3 separate regions of the Homo sapiens genome follow, and regions 1 and 3 are each linked to region 2. The links come from fine-mapping of genetic effects on gene expression. A gene starts in region 2. Each other region holds a variant in brackets. All regions are shown on one strand. Distances are between the middles of the regions.

The links. PIP is the estimated chance that this variant, and not a neighbour inherited with it, causes the effect. A credible set is the group of variants that fine-mapping cannot tell apart.
Region 1: its variant is the best candidate, but not a certain one, in a credible set for the expression of MAN2B1 in monocytes (BLUEPRINT, PIP 0.65).
Region 3: its variant is the best candidate, but not a certain one, in a credible set for the expression of MAN2B1 in whole blood (INTERVAL, PIP 0.87).

The regions. Positions count from the first base shown.
Region 1 is chr19:12,615,384-12,622,850 of GRCh38, reverse strand. All of the region lies in intron 1 of ZNF791 (zinc finger protein 791), which reads right to left. Among named protein-coding and RNA genes, the nearest start is that of ZNF791, 8.2 kb to the right of the region's middle. The variant ACACACACACACACT/T (reference allele first, on the strand shown) is at 4,029.
Region 2 is chr19:12,663,150-12,669,151 of GRCh38, reverse strand. It overlaps MAN2B1 (mannosidase alpha class 2B member 1), which reads left to right and starts at 2,410. Exons shown (of 24, transcript NM_000528.4): 1 at 2,410-2,609; 2 at 3,347-3,449; 3 at 3,627-3,800; 4 at 4,167-4,360; 5 at 5,317-5,449; 6 at 5,690-5,835. The coding sequence starts at 2,451. It overlaps WDR83 (WD repeat domain 83), which reads right to left and starts at 2,345. Exons shown (of 11, transcript NM_001099737.3): 1 at 2,160-2,345; 2 at 525-644. WDR83OS (WD repeat domain 83 opposite strand) reads left to right here. Exons shown (of 4, transcript NM_016145.4): 2 at 1-24; 3 at 535-632; 4 at 727-1,079. The coding sequence ends at 793. RefSeq lists a silencer at 2,268-2,547 and enhancers at 2,798-2,927, 2,948-3,077, 3,138-3,187, 3,728-3,777, 2,844-3,791 and 2 more.
Region 3 is chr19:12,635,225-12,641,733 of GRCh38, reverse strand. LOC105372279 (a long non-coding RNA gene) reads left to right here. Exons shown (of 4, transcript XR_007067142.1): 2 at 1,332-1,669; 3 at 4,294-4,458. Among named protein-coding and RNA genes, the nearest start is that of ZNF791, 28 kb to the right of the region's middle. RefSeq lists enhancers at 1,509-1,628, 1,185-1,705, 1,659-1,728. The variant AG/G (reference allele first, on the strand shown) is at 2,237.

The DNA.
Region 1 (7,467 bases), 47 kb after region 2:
GCGATCTCGGCTCACTGCAACCTCCGCCCCTCCAGGTTTAAGCAATTCTCTGCCTCAGCCTCCGAAGTAGCTGGGATTATAGGCGCGTGCCACCACGCCCAGCTAATTTTTTGTATTTTTAGTAGAGATGGGGTTTCACCATCTTGGCTAGGCTGGTCTTGAACTCCCGACCTCGTGATCCACCCTCCTCGGCCACCCAAAGTGCTGGGATTACAGGCGTGAGCCACTGCCTCCGGCTGGGGTTTTGTTATATTGTCCAGGTTGACCTTTAACTCTCGGCCCCAAGTGATCCTCCTGCCCCGGCCTCCCAAAGTGTTGTGATAACAGGTATGAATAACCATACCCAGCCCACAGCCTAATTTCTTATTACCCAAATCATTCAGCATTCCTTAAGATATGGGATTAAATGAGGTGGAGGTTTTTTTTTTTTTTTTTTTTTGTTTGAGACAGTCTTTTTTTTATTATTTTTTTTATTTATTATTTTTTTTAATTTATTTTTTTATTGATAATTCTTGGGTGTTTCTCACAGAGGGGGATTTGACAGGGTCATGGGACAATAGTGGAGGGAAGGTCAGCAGATAAACAAGTGAACAAAGGTCTCTGGTTTTCCTAGGCAGAGGACCCTGCGGCCTTCCGCAGTGTTTGTGTCCCTGATTACTTGAGATTAGGGAGTGGTGATGACTCTTAACGAGCATGCTGCCTTCAAGCATCTGTTTAACAAAGCACATCTTGCACCGCCCTTAATCCATTTAACTCTGAGTGGACACAGCACATGTTTCAGAGAGCACAGGGTTGGGGGTAAGGTCACAGATCAACAGGATCCCAAGGCAGAGGAATTTTTCTTAGTGCAGAACAAAATGAAAAGTCTCCCATGTCTACTTTCTACACAGACACGGCAACCATCCGATTTCTCAATCTTTTCCCCACTTTTCCCGCCTTTCTATTCCACAAAGCCGCCATTGTCATCCTGGCCCGTTCTCAATGAGCTGTTAGGCACACCTCCCAGACGGGGTGGTGGCCGGGCAGAGGCGCCCCTCACCTCCCGGACGGGGCGGCTGGCCGGGCGGGGGGGCTGACCCCCCCCACCTCCCTCCCGGACGGGGCGGCTGGCCGGGCAGGGGGGCTGACCCCCCACCGAGGTGGAGGTTTTAATAAGTAAATACACATTGAGAATCTTCTATCCCCTTTTGTTATACATGAGAGGCCAGGAGGCTTGTGGAAATCCAACTTTTAAGAAGGTCTAGCTGCCTATATCGTCCTGAAGTATTTGAGGCCATCAGAAGCACTCAGATTCTGCTGACTGAATGGAAATACTCTTTTAGAGACGTATTAATTTCAACTTGTTTCCGATATATATATATCCCTATGTGTTGGCATTACAGGCATGAGCGACCACGCCCGGCTGTGTGTGTAATATCTATCATAGACCCAGTTTTTCCTTTTACTTTCTGTCCCATTTCGTGAGACTAGGAAGTTACTGGGAAGACAGCTCAGGCACAAGGAAGGGGCCCTCACAACTTAGACTTTCACAAAATCGTTATACCCATGAGCCTCAGAACTGCTTCCAACCAATTTTTAGCACAAATACATATACACATTGAGATAAAATGTCAGAAGAGCACTTTCTGGAAGATCCATAATCATGTCATCTGGGCTTTGCTGACCTTGAAGAATAGATTGACAGTATCAATTTTCAGGGGACTTCACTGATGTCCACAATGGTCTGATGGTGAATTTGCCCATGATTATAAAATTAACAGGTAATTTCATACCTCCAAAAGAACATAAAATCTGGGTCAGGATGGCTCATGCCTGTAATCCCAGCACTGTGGGAGGCCGAGGCAGGTGGATCACCTCAGGTCAGGAGTTCGAGACCACCCTGGCCAACATGGAGAAACCCTGCCTCTACTAAAAATACAAAAATTAGTTGGGCATGGTGGTGCATGCATGTAATCTCAGCTACTCGGGAGGCAGAGGCAGGAGAATCGCTTGAACCCGGGAGGCAGAGGTTGCAGTGAGCCAAGATCGCACCACTGCAGTCCAGCCTGGGCAACAGAGCGAGACTCTATCTCAAAAAAAAAAAAAAAAAAAAAAAAGAACATAAATCCCCTTTCTCCAGTTTCAGGAGGAAGTGATCCCAGACAGACACTCTAGGGGCTGTTGTCCCAGGTTCTCTCATTTCCATGCACTCATGTGCACCATACGTTAAAAGATCCACACAGTTAGAAGGGGTTTTCTTAAGTAATTAGGACTATGGTCTGAGCAGGAAGAAATTTGGCTCCAGGGAGCTCTCCCTCGTGACAAGTCCATCTGCATGCCTGGGTGCTCTCTGTAAGGTTTATTTACATTTACATTTAATAGAAAATAAACATTTTGGCCAGGCGTGATGGCTCATGCCTATAATCCCAGCACTTTGGGAGGCTGAGGTGGGCAGATCGTTTGAGCCCAGGAGTTCGAGACCAGCCTGGGCAACATGGTGAAACCCTGTCTCTATAAAATATACAAAACTTGGCCAGGCGTGGTGGTGCACGCCTGTGGTCTCAGCTACTTGGGAGGCTGAGGTGGGAGGATTGCTTGAGCCTGCAAAGTCAAGGCTGCAGTGAGCCATAACTATACCACTGCACTCCAGCCAAAAATAAATAAAGACAGGCCAGGTGCGGTGGCTCACACCTGTAATCCCAGCACTTTGGGAGGCCAAGGCAGGTGGATCACGAGGTCAGAAGATCGAGACCATCCTGGCTCTACTAAAAATACAAAAAATTAGCTGGGTGCCGTGGCGGGCGCCTGTAGTCCCAGCTACTCGGGAGGCTGAGGCAGGAGAATGGCGGGAACCCGGGAGGCGGAGCTTGCAGTGAGCCGAGATCGCGCCACTGCACTCCAACCTGGGCGACAGAGCGAGACTCCGTCTCAAAAAAATAAATAAATAAAATAAAAATAAATAAATAAATAAAGATTTCATATATAGCCTTTTACTAAATAATAAAAAGAAAAAAAAACAGAAAAAAAAGGTTCATCTCCTTGCTAATGAGGATATAAATGTCAAATAGTTCCCACTTCAAACTGAGTAGGAAGACAAAACTAGTCGATTAAGATAACATTAGTGGCCGGGCGCGGTGGCTCACGCCTGTAATCCCAGCACTTGGGGAGGCCGAGGCAGGTAGATCATGAGGTCAGGAGATCGAGAGCATCCTGGCTAACACAGTGAAACCCCGTCTCTACTAAAAATACAAAAAATTAGCCAGGAGAAGTGGCGGGCGCCTGTAGTCCCAGCTAGTCGAGAGGCTGAGGCAGGAGAATGGCGTGAACACGGGAGGCGGAGCTTGCAGTGAGCCCAGATCGCGCCACTGCACTCCAGCCTGGGAGACAAATCGAGACTCCGTCTCAAAAAAAAAAAAAAAAAAAAAAAGATAACATTAGTGTTGATGACTACAGAGAACAATCATGTACAAACGGAGGATCAACTGATACACTCCACCACTTTTTTTAAGTTTGTAAATTTAAACTTGACCAAGATCCAGTAATTTTTTTCCAACTACCAGAGAATTTATTGTGCGTTTGCACTTGCAGACTGAAACAAAAATAGTAGGAGCATTATTTTCCACAAAGCAAACAAAAACAAAACCGTGAAAAAGTCTAAACACCACAACCATTGGAACGGATAGCCTGCAGCTTCAGATACTAGCATATGAGAAATATACTGAGAGGTGGCCAGGCGTGGTGGCTCACGCCTGTAATCCCTAGCACTTTGGGAGGCCTAGGTGGGTGGATCACGAGGTCGAGACTGAGACCATCCTGACCAACATGGTGAAACTCCGTCGCTACTAAAAATACAAAAATTAGCTGGGCATGGTGGCTCATGCCTGTAGTCCCAGCTACTCGGGAGGCTGAAGCAGGAGAATCGCTTGAACCCAGGAGGCGGAGGTTGCAGTGAGCTGAGATCACACCACTGCACTCCAGCCTGGCAACAGAGTGAGACTCCATCTCAAAAAAATAAATAAATACACACACACACACACACACACACACAC[ACACACACACACACT/T]GAGAGGTAAACAAATCACCACAAAATTATTTATTTATTTATTTTGAGGTGGAGTTTTGCTCTTGTTCCCCAGGGTGGAGTGCAGTGGCATGATCTCGGCTCACTGCAGCCTCCGCCTCCCGGGTTCAAGCAATTCTCCTGTCTCAGCCTCCTGAGTAGCTGGGATTACAGGCACGCACCACCATACCCAGCTAATTTTTTGTATTTTAGTAGAGACAGGGTTTCACCATGTTGGCCAGGCTGGTCTTGAACTCCTAGCCTCAGGCGCGAGCCACCACACTCGGCCTTTATTTTATTTTTGAGACGGGGTCTCATTGTTGCCCAGGCTAGAGTACAGTGGTGCAGTCACGGCTCACAGCAGCCTCGACTTCCCGGGCTCAAGCAATCTTCCCGCCTCAGACTCCTGAGTAGCTGGGACTACAGGTGTGCATCACCATGCCTGGCTAATTTTTTCATTTTTTGTAAAGATGGGTCTCACTATGTTGCCTAGGCTCCAAAAAACCCTTTAAGTGTAATTCCATTAATACTCATTAAATGTTCAAAGGAGGCAAAAATTTAAAAATACAATACTTGTGAAAAAGAATAGATGGTTGGTGGACGTGGTGGCTCACGCCTGTAATCCCAGCACCTTGCAAAGCCAAGGTGGGTGGATCACCTGATGTCAGGAGTTGGAGACCAGCCTAGCCAACATGGTGAAACTCCATCTCTACTAAAAATACAAAAATTAGCCGGGCATGATGGTGTGCACCTGTAATCCCAGCTACCTGTGAAGCTGAGGCAGGAGAATCGCTTGAACCCAGTGGATGGAGGTTGCAGTGAGCTGAGTTCTTGCCTCTGCACTCCAGCCTGGGCGACAAGGACGAAACTCTGTCTCAAAAAAAAAAAAAAAAAAAAAGCAAAATTTAGCCCTGTATGTGGCACGCACCTGTAGTTCCAGCTACTCAGAAGGCTGAGGTGGTGGTTGTAGTAGGCTGAGATCATGCCACTGCATTCCAGCCTGGTGACAGGGTAATACCCTGTCTCCAAAAAAAAAAAAAAAAAAAAAAAAGAGTTCCAGCAGGTAGAAAATCAGAAAGGACAAAGTTTAGTTGAAAGGCAACAACTGGGTTTAATTAAAATCCATGAATGCTTCATCCAACAGAACAACACACATTCTTCTCAAGTTCATGTGGAACATTCACCAAGATAAACCATGTTGTGGACAAAAACACACCTTAACAATTTTCAAAGAATATACATTATATAAAATATGCTCTCAGACCACCATGGTATTAATCTAGAAATCAGTAACAGAAGAATAGTTAGAAAACCATCAAATATTTGGAAATAAAACCCAACACAGTTCTAAACATGAATCAAAAAAATCTCAAGAAAAATTAAATTTGGGCCGGGCGCAGTGACTCATGCCTGTAATCCCAGCACTCTGGGGGGCCAAGGTGGGCGGATCACGAGGTCAGGAGTTCGAGACCAGCCTGGCCAACATGGTGAAACCCCATCTCTACTAAAAATAAAAAAATTAGACAGGCATGGTGGCACGTGCCTGTAATCCCAGCTACTTGAGAGGTTGAGGCAGGAGAATCGCTTGAACCCGGGAGGCGGAGGATGCAGTGAGCCAAGACTGCACCACTGCACTCCAGCCTGAGTGACACAGCAAGACTCCGTCTCAAAAAAAAAAAAAAAAGAAGAAAAAAGAAAAATTAAATGTGAATTAAATGAAAATAGAACTTATCAAAATTTGTGGAATGCAACAAAAATAGTACCTAAGTGAAATTTATACTATTAAACTCTCATACACCCACAAAAAATTTATACATGGATCTTACACCTTTCACAAAAATTAAGCCCAAATCGATCATAGATGTAAATGTAACATGCAAAACTATCCACTTGGCTTTGGTGATGAATTTTTAGATAAACCACTAAAAGCACAATCTATGAAAGGAAAAAATAAGTTTCACTTCATTAAAATGAAAAACTCCTACTCTGTGAAAGAAAGTGTTAAAAGAATAAAAATAAAAGGCACAGACAGATTTTTGCAAATCTTCACAAAAGCACTTATCTGATTAAGGACTAGTATCTAAAATATCCAAAGAATTCTTTTTGTTTTTCTTTTTTTTTGAGACAGTCTTGCTCTGTTGCCCAGGGTGGAGTGCAGTGGTGCAATCTCGGCTCACTGCAACCTCTGCCTCCTAGGCTCAAGCGATTCTCATGCCTCAGCCTCCCAAATAGCTGGGACTACAGGGGTGTGCCACCCACATTGGGCTAATTTTTTTTCTCCGATCCCTTGGCAGCTCCAGCCCCAGCACCACTTCTCAGCTCTGCTCCCCAGCAGCCTGGGTGGCCCCACATGAGCTACCATGCCTAGCGTCCTTTTTGTTTTTTTGAGATAGGATCCATTATGTTGCCCATGCTGGGCTTATAATCCTGGGTGCAGGCAATCCTCCCACTTTAGCCTCTGGAGTAGCTGGGATGACAAGCGTGTACCACCATGCCTGCCTCCAATTCGAACTCTTAAATCTCAACAAAAATAAGACAAATGAACCAGTGAAAAATGAGCAAAAGACCTGAACACACCCCTCACCAATGAAAGATATACAGATGGCAAATACACATATGAAGAGATGCTCAATTATATGTCACTAAGGAGCTGCAAATAAAACTGAAGAGATATCACTTTACACTTATTAGAACGTACAAAGTTCAAAATGCTGAGAACAGCAATGGATAGCAAAGATGTAGACAACAAGAATTCTCATTCCTTGCCAATGGAAATGGAAAATGGTATGTCTACTTTGGAAGATAGGCAGTTTCTAACAAAACAAAACGTCCTCTTACCAGTGGACCATGCAATCACATTCCTTGCTATTTACTCACATGAGTTGAAAAATACTGTTCATACAAAAACCTGCCCATGAATATTTACAGGAGGTTTCTTCATAACTGCCAAATTTAAGACTTAACCAAGACATCATGCAACAGGTTTATGGATAAACAATCTGTGGTACAATCTTTTTTTTTTTTTTTTTTTTGAGACGGAGTCTTGCTCTTGTTGCCCAGGCTGGAGTGCAATGGCACTATCTCGGCTCACTGCAACCTCCACCTTCCAGGTTCAAGCAATTCTCCTGCCTCAGCCTCCCAGGTAGCTGAGATTACAGGTGTGCGCCACCACACCCAGCTAATTTTTGTATTTTTAGTAGAGACGGGGTTTTGTCATGTTGGCCAGGCTGGTCTCAAACTCCTGACCTTGTGATCCGCCCGCCTCGGCCTCCCAAAGAGCTGGGATTACAGGCATGAGCCATCGTGCCCGGCCGGTACAATCTTATGATGAAATATTGTTCAACGATAAGAGAAATCAGGTATCAAGCCATGAAGACACAGAAGGACCTTAAAAGTACATTGCTCAGTGAAGGAAGCCAATCTGTGAA
Region 2 (6,002 bases):
AGCATGTGCGGCCTCATGCTTAAGGTGGGCGGGGTTGAGCTTCTATGGGTGTAGTTGGACCTGAGAACGAGGCCCGGGGGCGGGTTTGGAATGAAGCGGGGTGTCTTGTCATTGCTGATGGGGCGGGACCTGAGATCGGCCGGGAGTGGGGCTGCGATGACGCTGGGCCGAGAAAGCCCCAGTCTTTGGTGAAGTCAAGGATTCGAGTCAGGTTGGGGATGTGGCAGATTGGTCTGCGAGTGGGGCCAGGCTTTGAAGCAACTTGGAGAGGAGTTGTGGAAAAAGGGCAGGGTCTTAAGCATGTGGGATGTCAGAGTCTCTCTTGGTCCTGAGAGACGCAGGCCAGACAGTAGGACTAGAAACCACGTATCTAGAGTATGCCATGAGCAGGTGGGACTGAGGAATTCCGGGTGGGGCAAGGTCCCAGCTGCATCAGATGGAATCAGTGGGCATGATCTGGTGTCTGGAAAGGTGGCTTCGGGGACTCATTGTTGTGCCTTTCACTAACCTGCCCACCCACTTACCTTTCCCTAGCTGAAGTGGTGTGCTTGGGTCGCTGTCTACTGCTCCTTCATCAGCTTTGCCAACTCTCGGAGCTCGGAGGACACGAAGCAAATGATGAGTAGCTTCATGTGAGACTTGCCCTACAGAACAAGTGACTCTTGAGTAAGGGGTGGGGGGACCCCAGCCTGGCCATCCTAGACTGACACCTCTCTCCTGTCTCAGGCTGTCCATCTCTGCCGTGGTGATGTCCTATCTGCAGAATCCTCAGCCCATGACGCCCCCATGGTGATACCAGCCTAGAAGGGTCACATTTTGGACCCTGTCTATCCACTAGGCCTGGGCTTTGGCTGCTAAACCTGCTGCCTTCAGCTGCCATCCTGGACTTCCCTGAATGAGGCCGTCTCGGTGCCCCCAGCTGGATAGAGGGAACCTGGCCCTTTCCTAGGGAACACCCTAGGCTTACCCCTCCTGCCTCCCTTCCCCTGCCTGCTGCTGGGGGAGATGCTGTCCATGTTTCTAGGGGTATTCATTTGCTTTCTCGTTGAAACCTGTTGTTAATAAAGTTTTTCACTCTGGCTGTCAGCCTCTTCTGTTCAGTGGGGTGTTCCTCCTACCTGGCGGGAAGGGCTCTAGCCCCATAGGCCTGGTGTGGGGCCCCAGTCTGGAGGCTTCTGGCTGTTCATTTGCTTACTTCATAAACCTTGTGTCTTAAGTCAGGTGCTAGGGACAAGACAGTGACTTCTGCCCTCTGGCAACTCACCAGATGGCCCTGCTGACCTAGATAATCTAGGCTTTGGTTTCCTTTTTTTTTTTTCCTTTTTAAGAAAGAAAATGGTCTTGATCTGTCATGCAGGCTGAGTGCAGTGGCACAATCTATGTTCACTGCAGCCTCAAACTCCTGGGCTCAAGCAATCCTCCCACCTCAGCCTGCCACGTAACTGGGACCACAAATGCGTGCTACCATGCCCAGTTAATTCTTGTTTTTTTTGAGACAGAGTTTTGCTCTTGTTGCCCAGGCTGGAGGGCAATGGCATGATCTTGATCTCGGCTCACTGCAACCTCCGCCTCCCAGGTTCAAGTGATTCTCCTGCCTCAGTCTCCCAAGTAGCTGGGATTACAGGCATGTGCCACCATGCCCAGCTAATTTTTGTATTTTTACATTTTGTGTAAAATTACAAATTTTGTGTTTTCAAACCCGTCTCTACAAAACAACCCATGTTGCCCAGGCTGGTCTCAAACTCCCAGGCCCAAGTGATTCACCAGCCTGGCCCTCCCAAAGTGCTGGGATTGCAGGCTTGAGCCACTGCGCCTGCCCTGGGCTTTGTTTTCTTATCAGAGAATGAACTGGTAGGAATTGGGAAAGGCATGAAAGACTCGGGGTCCTTCCCCACTTGTCAGACCCTCTTTTCTCTCCGGAACACCCAGGGATCCTTCTCAACCAGGCTGGATCCCATCCCTGGTACTCCAGGGGTATTTACCCAACGTCCCAATCCCCACAGTATAGGACTCTTCATCAGATCCTCCTCTTAGGCAAGCTAGGTCCTTCCAGGACCCTAGCGCTGAAGGTCCATGGGACGGACACCCTGGATTCCCATGGACACACTACACCGGCTAGGAAAACCCGGCCCCCTTAGGAAAAGCACTTCTGCTCCTACCGGCATTAAGAGGCATTCCGTCTTGGAATTCCGGCATTAAGAGGCATTCCGTCTTCATAGCCCGTGAGACGCCAGTGTCACCTTTAGCCCAACCAGTGCCCTGAGGGTGGCATTTTCCTACCTTCCTGTAACGACCCCCGGGATTGCCCAGGGCTACAGCCTCTCTCCCGTGAGCCTCCAGACCGCGCCCTGGCCCCGCCCCCCACCCCGATTGGCCCGGCCGGGTCTGGGGGCGGGGCGTTTGCCCGGCCTTTCCAGGGCCGGGGAACCCCAGGAGGAAGCTGCTGAGCCATGGGCGCCTACGCGCGGGCTTCGGGGGTCTGCGCTCGCGGCTGCCTGGACTCAGCAGGCCCCTGGACCATGTCCCGCGCCCTGCGGCCACCGCTCCCGCCTCTCTGCTTTTTCCTTTTGTTGCTGGCGGCTGCCGGTGCTCGGGCCGGGGGATACGAGGTGAGTGGGGCCTCCGAGCTGAAACGTACAGGAGGCAGAGTGAAACCCAGAATACAGTCTAGAGGTGTGGGTGGGTCTGTCCTGTGGGTGTCTAGTGAATGGCTGATGATATGACAGTGTGGTCTGAGTGCGTGCTTTGTGTCATTGCGAGGTCTGGCTGTGCGCATCTGAGTATAGGACTGTGTCTGATTGTACCTGCCTCCGTGTCTCCGGGATGCTTGCCTAGACTTTGTCTGCACTTAACTGTGGGATTGGAGGGGCAGGAGGTGGCAGGGGGTGAGCAGTGTATGTGTGGGGGGAGGTGCTGGCTGAGAGCTGGGACTCTGGAGTCTGCCTGAAATTCCAGCCTAGCTCTTACACTTCCTGAGTGTGTGACGTTGGGCAAGTCACCTATCCTCTCTAAGCCTCAGTGCCTTCATCTGGAAACTGGGGATAACATCACCCCACCTCCCACGGTGGCCGTCTGCTGTCGGCAAATGCTGAACAAACATCAGCTACTTCTATTATTATTTTCCCGGAGTGTGAATGAGAGCTGCCCTGTGGGGTTGTGCAAAGTGGAGTTGTATCTATGAGCACAACTATGTATGTGTGTGTCCTGCCTGGGAGGGCCTGGCCTCCTCTGCACATAGGCGAGATCAGGCCTCTCTGAGTCACTCACCTCTAGATCAAGACTTACTCTGCAGCCCCCGACCTCGGGGGTTATTGACAAGGTATGTGTGTTTGGGGTCCCTGTGCAGACATGCCCCACAGTGCAGCCGAACATGCTGAACGTGCACCTGCTGCCTCACACACATGATGACGTGGGCTGGCTCAAAACCGTGGACCAGTACTTTTATGGAAGTGAGTAGAGGATGGGGACTGGTCCCTGGGATCCCCATGGTCCCTGTAATCCCTCTGGGTCCTGGACATTAGGGTGGGGCCAGTGCTACCCTAATATCCAGGGTTTGGGCTCCTCTGTCTAGGAATAACCCCCTTGGCTCTGCTGTTCCCTGAGAGCCTTATCCCTGTTATCCACAGTCAAGAATGACATCCAGCACGCCGGTGTGCAGTACATCCTGGACTCGGTCATCTCTGCCTTGCTGGCAGATCCCACCCGTCGCTTCATTTACGTGGAGATTGCCTTCTTCTCCCGTTGGTGGCACCAGCAGACAAATGCCACACAGGAAGTCGTGCGAGACCTTGTGCGCCAGGGTGAGCCTACCCCAAGGAAGTGAAAAGAGGAAGCCCAGCCCAGCTTCTGCTTCTGCATCTCTGGTTTCTGAGATTTGTCATGCCACGTGCAAGCTGTATAACATGCGTGTCGCTCCGCCTGCCTGGACTCTCCATTTGGAGACCTCCTATACATCCCACAAAGCCCCACCTGCTGTGCATCCTCTGGGAAGCCTGCCATGCAGGGGGCCTCTTTCCCATATCTGGGAACTATGGCCTGGGAGCGACCCCTCTTGTCCTTCCGCCAGAAATGTGTACACAGGCAGGCTTTCACATTCCCAGTATCACCCACCCTACTCCCACTCCTGGCTCTGACCGCTGACCCTGACCTTGCCTGTCCTGGCACAGGGCGCCTGGAGTTCGCCAATGGTGGCTGGGTGATGAACGATGAGGCAGCCACCCACTACGGTGCCATCGTGGACCAGATGACACTTGGGCTGCGCTTTCTGGAGGACACATTTGGCAATGATGGGCGACCCCGTGTGGCCTGGCACATTGACCCCTTCGGCCACTCTCGGGAGCAGGCCTCGCTGTTTGCGCAGGTGCGACCCGGGACCTCTCTTGGGCCCACTTCTTCACTCACTCTGGCTCCTCCCTCGCCCAGTCAAACCCCGCCCTCTCCCTGCAATCTCACAAGGACCAGGCCCAGGCCTAGGCCTGTTGAAGCCCTGCCCCTTGAGTGAGCCGTAAAGCCAGTGGCTTTTGAGCTCTGGCCTCAGCCGGCTATGCCCAGCCCAGGCTGACCCAGCTCCGGCTGGCTCCGCCCTCTCCCCTAATAGGCCCCTCTTGGTGTTCTGGCCCCACCCACTAGCTCGGGTCCTGGCTCCTCCCTAAACCGGGTGGCAAGTGGATGCCTAGGCTGCCTTAAAAACAGGTTCATTACCTGTGCTCAGACCCCATCCATCCTCAGGCTGTGGAAGGGGGAACCTCATTCCTGGAGTCAGGCCTGCTCTGCGCTTTGACAGTGCTGGGGAGGTGAACCTGGGTTCTGATGTTGGACCCGCCCTCTCCCTGCTAGCCCAAGGTGGTGAGTTCTGAAACTTCCCCAAGCTTGGAAATAAGCTGGAGGCCTCTCTGTTTCAGCCCTACGTGTTTTTGTTTTTGTTTTTTGAGACAGGGTCTTGCTGTCATCCAGGCTGGAGTGCAGTGGTGCAATCCTAACTCACTATAGCCTCAATCTCCCGGATTCAAGCGATTCTCCTGTCTCAGCCCCCCTAGTAGATGAGACTACAAGAGCGCACCACTACGCCTGGCTAATTTTTAAATTTTTTGTAGACAGTCTGCCCGTGTTGTGCAGGCTGGTCTCAAAAACTCCTGGGTTTAAGTGATCCTCCTGTTTTGGCCTCCCAGAAGGCTGGGATCATAGGCAAGAGCCACCACATCGACCTAGCACTGCTTTTTAACCTGTGCTCTGACCTGCCCCTCCCAAGCAGAGGGGAGTTTGGTGGTGAGAGGGCTGGGCACTAATTCACACTGCCTTTTCCTCCCTCATCCCCAGATGGGCTTCGACGGCTTCTTCTTTGGGCGCCTTGATTATCAAGATAAGTGGGTACGGATGCAGAAGCTGGAGATGGAGCAGGTGTGGCGGGCCAGCACCAGCCTGAAGCCCCCGACCGCGGACCTCTTCACTGGTAGGGGGCTTGGTGAGGGCAGGGCCAGCCATGGTGCCACACACTCAGAAGGGCCCTGGGCTTGATATCTGCTCTGTTGTCACTGTCCTGGAATTCCTATAGTCTGGGAACAAAGGCCCTGCATTTCCTTTTGCATTGGGACACAAATTCTGAAGCCCATCCTGGGTGGGACATGGCCGGCTTTGAAACCAGGGAAGGTCTGGGTGATGGGCCACCCCTTGAACTTGGTGTGACCTGCAGGTGTGCTTCCCAATGGTTACAACCCGCCAAGGAATCTGTGCTGGGATGTGCTGTGTGTCGATCAGCCGCTGGTGGAGGACCCTCGCAGCCCCGAGTACAACGCCAAGGAGCTGGTCGATTACTTCCTAAATGTGGCCACTGCCCAGGTAACCCTGGTGTCCAGAACCTTCGAGTCCGGTATATACAATACAATGAGCTCTTTCCATGGTACAGGCATCCCCTAACACGTTCTCCTTATTTTTAATTTTTTTGAGACAGTCTTACTCTGTCACCCAGGCTGGAGTGCAGTGGTGCGATCTCGGCTCACTGCAAC
Region 3 (6,509 bases), 28 kb after region 2:
ATAAGGTACCGTCGCAGAAAGTGCGTCCTGAAATTTTTCCCAAGGCCCCTTTTAAGAAGGGACACTCGCCCAGGCATACAGGGAGGATGAAGGAGGGCACCCAGACCCCAGCTGCAGTTTCCATGGCGACCATTCATCGGACACCTTCAGAAAACGTCTGGAGGGATGACTGGGGCCAAACAGGGAGGGCTAAGGGTGGGCGACTTGGACTTGGTCACAGTCCTATGCAGACGCGTCTGAAGCACCTGCTGAAAACGTTGCCAATTCTGAGTGATAGGAGATAGGAATAGGGGCATGAAGAGAGGGACGGGGAGGGTAAAAGGAGGGGGATCACTGGGAGCCGCAGAAGCAGTGGCGGGGAAAGCAGGGGGAAGGGGAGGTAGAGGGATGGTTTTGATGGGAGAAGGAGGTTCTGAGTAGGATATTGTTGTGGCTTCATTCCCCTGTGGGCCTTCCCAAATGTTCCTTTTTTTTCTTTTCTCTTTCTTTTTCTTTCCCTCCCTCACTCCCTCCCTCCTTTCTTTCTTTCCCTTCCCTCCCTTCCTTCCATCTTGAATGTTCTTCTTCATTTTCTTTCCTTTTTTTTGAGACAGACTTTCACTCTTGTGGGTTATTTTTTATTTATTTTTTTTTTTGGTGTTTTGTTTTGAGACAGAGTTTTACTCTTGTTGCCCAGGCTGGAGTGCAATGGCGGGATCTTGGCTCACTGCAACCTGCTCTTCCCGGGTTCAAACGATTCTCCTACCTGAGCCTCCCTAGTAGCTGGGATTACAGGCATGCGCCACCACACCCAGCTAATTTTTGTATTTTTAGTAGAGAAGGGTTTTCTCCATGTTGGTCAGGCTGGTCTCGAACTCCCAATTTCAGGTGAGCTGCCCGCCTCGGCCTCCCAAAGTGCTGGGATTACAGGCGTGAGCCGCCGCGCCCGGCCTCTTTTTCCTTTTCTCTTTCTTTTTCCCTCCTTCCCTCCCTCCCTCTCTCCCTTCCTTCCTCCCTCCTTCCACCCTCCCTCTCCCTCTCTCTTTCATTTTTTTTGGTTTGTTTTTGTTTTTTGTTTTATTTTTCCCGCGACCGAGTCTCGCTGTCACCCAGGCTGCTGTGCAATGATGCGATCATAGCGCACTGCATCATCTCCAGGGCACATCTCTCCTCCCGCCTCGGCCTCCCAAAGTGTTGAGGTGGTAGGCATGAGGCATCCAGCAGGGCTTCATTCACATTTTCTGTCTGCCTATGGAGGCTGGGATCAGCCCTGGCCATTCAGGGAGTTCCGTGGAGGGTGCCCCGGGCCCACCAGGCCATCCTCTGACCGCTTTGGGCCGAGTGTATTACAGGTTCATGTGGGACCCGAACCAGGCGGTGTAGACTGGGGAAAGTGCCTGTCTGGTGAGGTCCGGCGGGTGTTCGAGCGCCACCTAGGGTCAGTCTGATGCCATCCCCTGAGCTTGGCTGCCGCGTGTATGGGAAGTGATCTGGCTGCAAACCGCAAGAGAGAGTTCCAGGAGGTCGCCGGCGATGACAGAGTCTTCTCGGCTACGACACGCGCCGCCCCATCATGGGCTCTCCTGAGATCGTTACTGCGTGTTGCGGGCGAGCAGTCTCTGAGAATCTCGCGGGCTGAATGTCGCATGAGGTCCCCTCCGCCCGTGGGGACTGGCTGCTGCCGTCGCAGGTGAGCGGAGTAGGGTGCCCTGAGCTTGGCCGCTTTCCCACCTGGTGCCTGCTTGCCCACAGCTTCATTGGCGTTTTCTAGGTCCCCCTGCTGGGGCCAGGATCACAGTCAGGAAGGTCCTCGGACTGCTGTGGGAAGGGCCCCAGGTTCTGCCCACCGCCAGATTGGGCCTGGTAGTTAGATGAGTCCTGAAGACACTTCTAAGCCCCCCTACACAGCTGGGGCCAGGCTGGCCCTGGAGGCTGGAGGGATTAAGTATTCCTGTGATTCTTTGTGGGCCCAGTTATATTTATCCGTTGAACAAGTTTCCAAGACCTCCTGCAGGCTGGCTAGGGATACCTGAAGAAGGCTTCCTGGCTTGGCTGTGGTCACATGCGAGGGGCCTTTTTGATGAATACACTTGAACAAAAGTTTGCTTTTATTAGAAATGGTAGCCAGTTGCGGTGGCTCACTCCTGTAATCCCAACACTTTGGGAGGCCGAGGTGGGTGGATCTCTTGAGGTCACGAGTTCCAGACCAGCCTGGCCAACATGGTGAAACCTGTCTCTACTAAAAATAAAAAAAAAA[AG/G]GCTGGGCCCGGTGGCTCACGCCTGTAATCCCAGCACTTTGGGAGGCTGAAGCGGGCGGATCACGAGGTCAGGATATCGAGACCATCCTGTCTAACATGGTGAAACCCCGTCTCTACTATAAATACAAAAAAACAGCCGGGTGTGGTGGCGGGTGCCTGTAGTCCCAGCTACTCGGGAGGCTGAGGCAGGAGAATGGCATGAACCCCGGAAGGGGAGCTTGCAGTGAGCCGAGATTGCGCCACGGCACTCCAGCCTGGGCGACAGAGCAAGACTCCGTCTCAAAAGCAAAAAACAAAAAACAAAAAACAAATTAGCCGAGCGTGGTGGCGGGCAACTGTAATTCCAGCTACTTAGGAGGTTGAGGCAGGAGAATCGCTCAAACCTGGGAGGTAGAGGTTGCAGTAAGCTGAGATTGCACCACTGCACTCCCGCCTGGACGACAGAGCAAGACTCAGTCTCAAAAAAGGATGGGGTCTTGCTATATTGCCCAGGCTGATCTTGAACTCCTGGGTTCAAGCCATATAACGCCTCGGACTCCCAAAATGTTGGGATGACTTCCCTTACCCACCGTTCCCTGCCTTCTCCACGTTTGCTGAGTTGGCCTATTGAGGCCAGGGCCAGCCTTGGCCATTCAGGGAGTTCTGTGGAAAGTGCCCCGGGTCCACCAAGGCAGCCTCTGATATCTTGGGGCCGCGGTACAGGTTAGAGTGAGACCCGGACAAGGTGGCCTCTGCTGAGGGTCGGGGTCCAATCCGGCGGGGTCTTGCCGGTGATTGGGAATTACCTGTTTGTTGGCGTTTATATTTTCTTTTCTTTTTTTTTTTTTTTTTTGAGACGGAGTCTGGCTCTGTCGCCCAGGCTGGAGTGCAGTGGCGCCATCTTGGCTCCCTGCAAGCTCCGCCTCCCGGGTTCACGTCATTCTTCTGCCTCAGCCTCCCGAGTAGCTGGGACTACAGGCGCCCGCCACCACGCCTGAATAATTTTTTGTATTTTTAATAGAGATGGGGTTTCACTGTGTTAGCCAGGAAGGTCTCGATCTCCTGACCTCGTGATACGCCTGCCTCGGCCTCTCAAAGTGCTAGGATTACAGGCGTGAGCCACCACGCCCGGCCTGACGTTTATATTTTCTCCCTGGAGCTAGCCTGCTGCATAGGTGGGATAAGATTCTGCCATGATGCTCAGAATCCAGTTCAGTTCCTGGAAGCCAGGGGCAATGGCAGGATCTTCTCTACAGGCGCCAGTCTGTAGACAGGCTCTCCTGAGATTGTCACTGCAGGACGGGGGTGAGTGATTTCTAAGAATTCTGAAGGCCTACTGGCCCGCGGAGGTCCCCTCCGCTTCTGAGGACCGCCTTGAGCGGTCGCACGTGACTGGGGTCGCCCTCCTGAGGACAGGATCGCAGCCAGGGAGGCCCAGGAAGGCACCTTGCTCCTGGCCTCCAACTCACGTGGGGCACCGTCGCTGAGAGTGAGTCCTGAAATCTTTTCCAAGTCGCCCACCCCGTTTTTTTTTTTTGTTTTTTTTTTTTGAGAGAGTCTCGCTCTGTTGCCCAGGCTGGAGTGCGGTGGTGTAATCTCGGCTCACTGCAACCTCTGCCTCCTGGGTTCAAGCGATTCTCCTGCCTCAGCCTCCCAAGTAGCTGGGATTACAGGCGCCCGCCACCACGCCCGGCTAATTTTTGTATTTTTAGTACGGACGGGGTTTCATCATGTTGGCCAGCTGCTCTGGAACTCCTGACCTCATGATCCACCCGCCTCGGTCTCTCAAAGTGCTGGGATTACAGGCGTGAGCCACCGCACCCAGCCCCAACTCTCCCTCTTAAGAGGACACGGGCTCAGGCTGACAAAGAGGCTTTTAGGATGCCACCTAAAGCTCAGCTGCAGTTCCCACTGTGCGTATTCATCAGACACTTACAGAAAACCTTGGTGATATGGTTTGGCTGTGTGTCCCCAACCAAATCTCATGTTCAATTTTAATTTCTAATACCAGGAGAGGGACCTGCTGGGAGGTGATTAGATCATGGGGGCGGCTTTCCCCTTGCTGTTCTCGTGATAGTTCTCAGGAGATCTGATGGTTTAAAGATGTGCGGCACTTCCCACTTCGTGCTCTCTCCTGATCCCTCCTGCTTCAAGTGAAGACTGACTCGATCCCCAGTAGCCTTCCGCCTTGATAAGTTTCCTGAGGCCTCCCAGCCTTGCTTCCTGTACAGCCTGCAGAACTGTGAGTCAATTAAACCTCTTTTATTCGTGAATTACCCAGCCTCAGGTAGTTTTTTTCTTTTTTCTTTTTTTTGAGACGGAGTTTCACTCTTGTTGCCCAGGCTGGAGTGCAATGACGTGATCCCCGCTCACTGCAACCTCTGCCTCCCGGGTTCAAGGGATTCTCCTGCTTGAGCCTCCTGAGTAGCTGGAATTACAGACGTGAGCCATGACGCCCGGCTAATTTTTTTATTATTAGTAGTAGAGATGGGGTTTCACCATGTTAGTCAGGCTGGTCTCAAACTCCTGACCTCAGGTGATCCACCCGCCTCAGCCTCCCAAAGTGCTGTGATTACAGGCGTGAGCCATCGCGCCCAGCTCAGGTAGTTCTTTATAGCAGCGCGAGAATGGAGCAACACACTTGGGAAGGATCATTCAGGCTAAACAGGGAGGTCAGGGGAGGGCGACTTGCACCTGGTCACAGTCCTGCACAGGCGCATCTGAATCACCTGCTGGAAACGTTTCCAGTTCGGCGGGGCCGCACAGGGGCAAGAGGTGATAAAGTGGGGAAGAGGAGACAAAGTGGGGAAAGAGGGGAAAAAGGGGGATGAAGGCTGGAGGGGGCCAGGATGGGGCGGGGCAGGGTAGGTCTTGGGGAGGGGAGGGCAAAGGGTAGGGATGGCCTTGATGGGACAAGGAGTTTATGATTAAAATGCCCTGGTGGCTTTATTCCCCTGTGCGCCTTCCAAAAATATTTCTTCTTATCTCTCATTTTGTTTTTACTTTTAAGAGACAAGGTTGGCCGGGCGCGGTGGCTCACGTCTGTAATCCCAGCACTTTGGGAGGCTGAGGCAGGTGGATCACCTGAGGTCAGGAATTTGAGACCAGCCTGGCCAACATGGTGAAATCCCGTCTCTACTAAAAATATAAAAATTAGCCGGGCGCGGTGGCGGGCGCCTGTAATCCCAGCCACTCGGGAGGCTGAGGCAGGAGAATCGCTTGAACCCGGGGGGCGGAGGTTGCAGTGAGCCGGTATCGCACCACTGCACTTCAGCCTGGGCGACAGAGTGAGACTCCGTCTCAAAAAAAAAAAAAAAAAAAAAAAAAGGAAAGAAAGAAAGAAAATACATTACAGGGTTCCACCAGGCAGCACACCCAGAGAGGAGCTAACTGCAAGGAGACAAAGGCTTGGTGGGGATTTTAGAGAATGGTGCTTTGGCCGGGTGCAGTGGCTCACGCCTGTAATCTCAGCACTTTGGGAGGCCGAGGCGGGCGGATCACGAGGTCAGGAGATCGGGACCATCCTGACTAACACGGTGAAACCCCATCTCTACTAAAAATATAAAAACAAAATTAGCCAGGCATGGTGGCGGGTGCCTATAGTCCCAGCTACTCAGGAGGCTGAGGTGGGAGAATGGCGTGAACCCAGGAGGCGGAGCTTGCAGTGAGCCAATATCGCGCCACTGCACTCCAGCCTGGGTGGCAGAGCAAGACTCCTTCTCAAAAAAAAAAAAAAAAAAAAAAAGGACTCATAAGTTCTGCCCTAGATCAAAGCAACCTTAATGTGGTACAAATTATAGGCTATGACACACATAGCATTCTTGCCTGTTTTGGAAGGTGGCTGACATGAACTGTGTCACCCAGGTCTGAGTGCAGTGGCATGATCATGGCTCACTGCAGGCTCGAACTCTTGGGCTCAAGCCATCCTCCCACCTCAGCCTCTGGAGTAGCTGGAATCACAGGTGTGCCCCACCACACCCAGCTAATTTTTTACTTTTGTAGAGATGGGGTCTCAGTTCTTTTTTTTTTTCCTTTTTTCTCCTTCCCTTCCTTCCTTCCTTCTCTCATATCTCTGCTTTTCTTTCTTTTGCTTTCTTTCTCTTTCCTTTCTTTTTCTTTCTTTCTCTCTTTTTCTTTTCTTTCTCTCTCTGTCTTTTCTTTTTTCAACACGACTGAGCCTCACTGTCGCCCAGGTTGCTGTGCAGTGGTGTAATCACAGCTCACTGCCACGTGGAACTCCTGGGCACAAACCATCCTCCCACCTCAGCCTCCTAAAGTGTTGAGATGACAGGC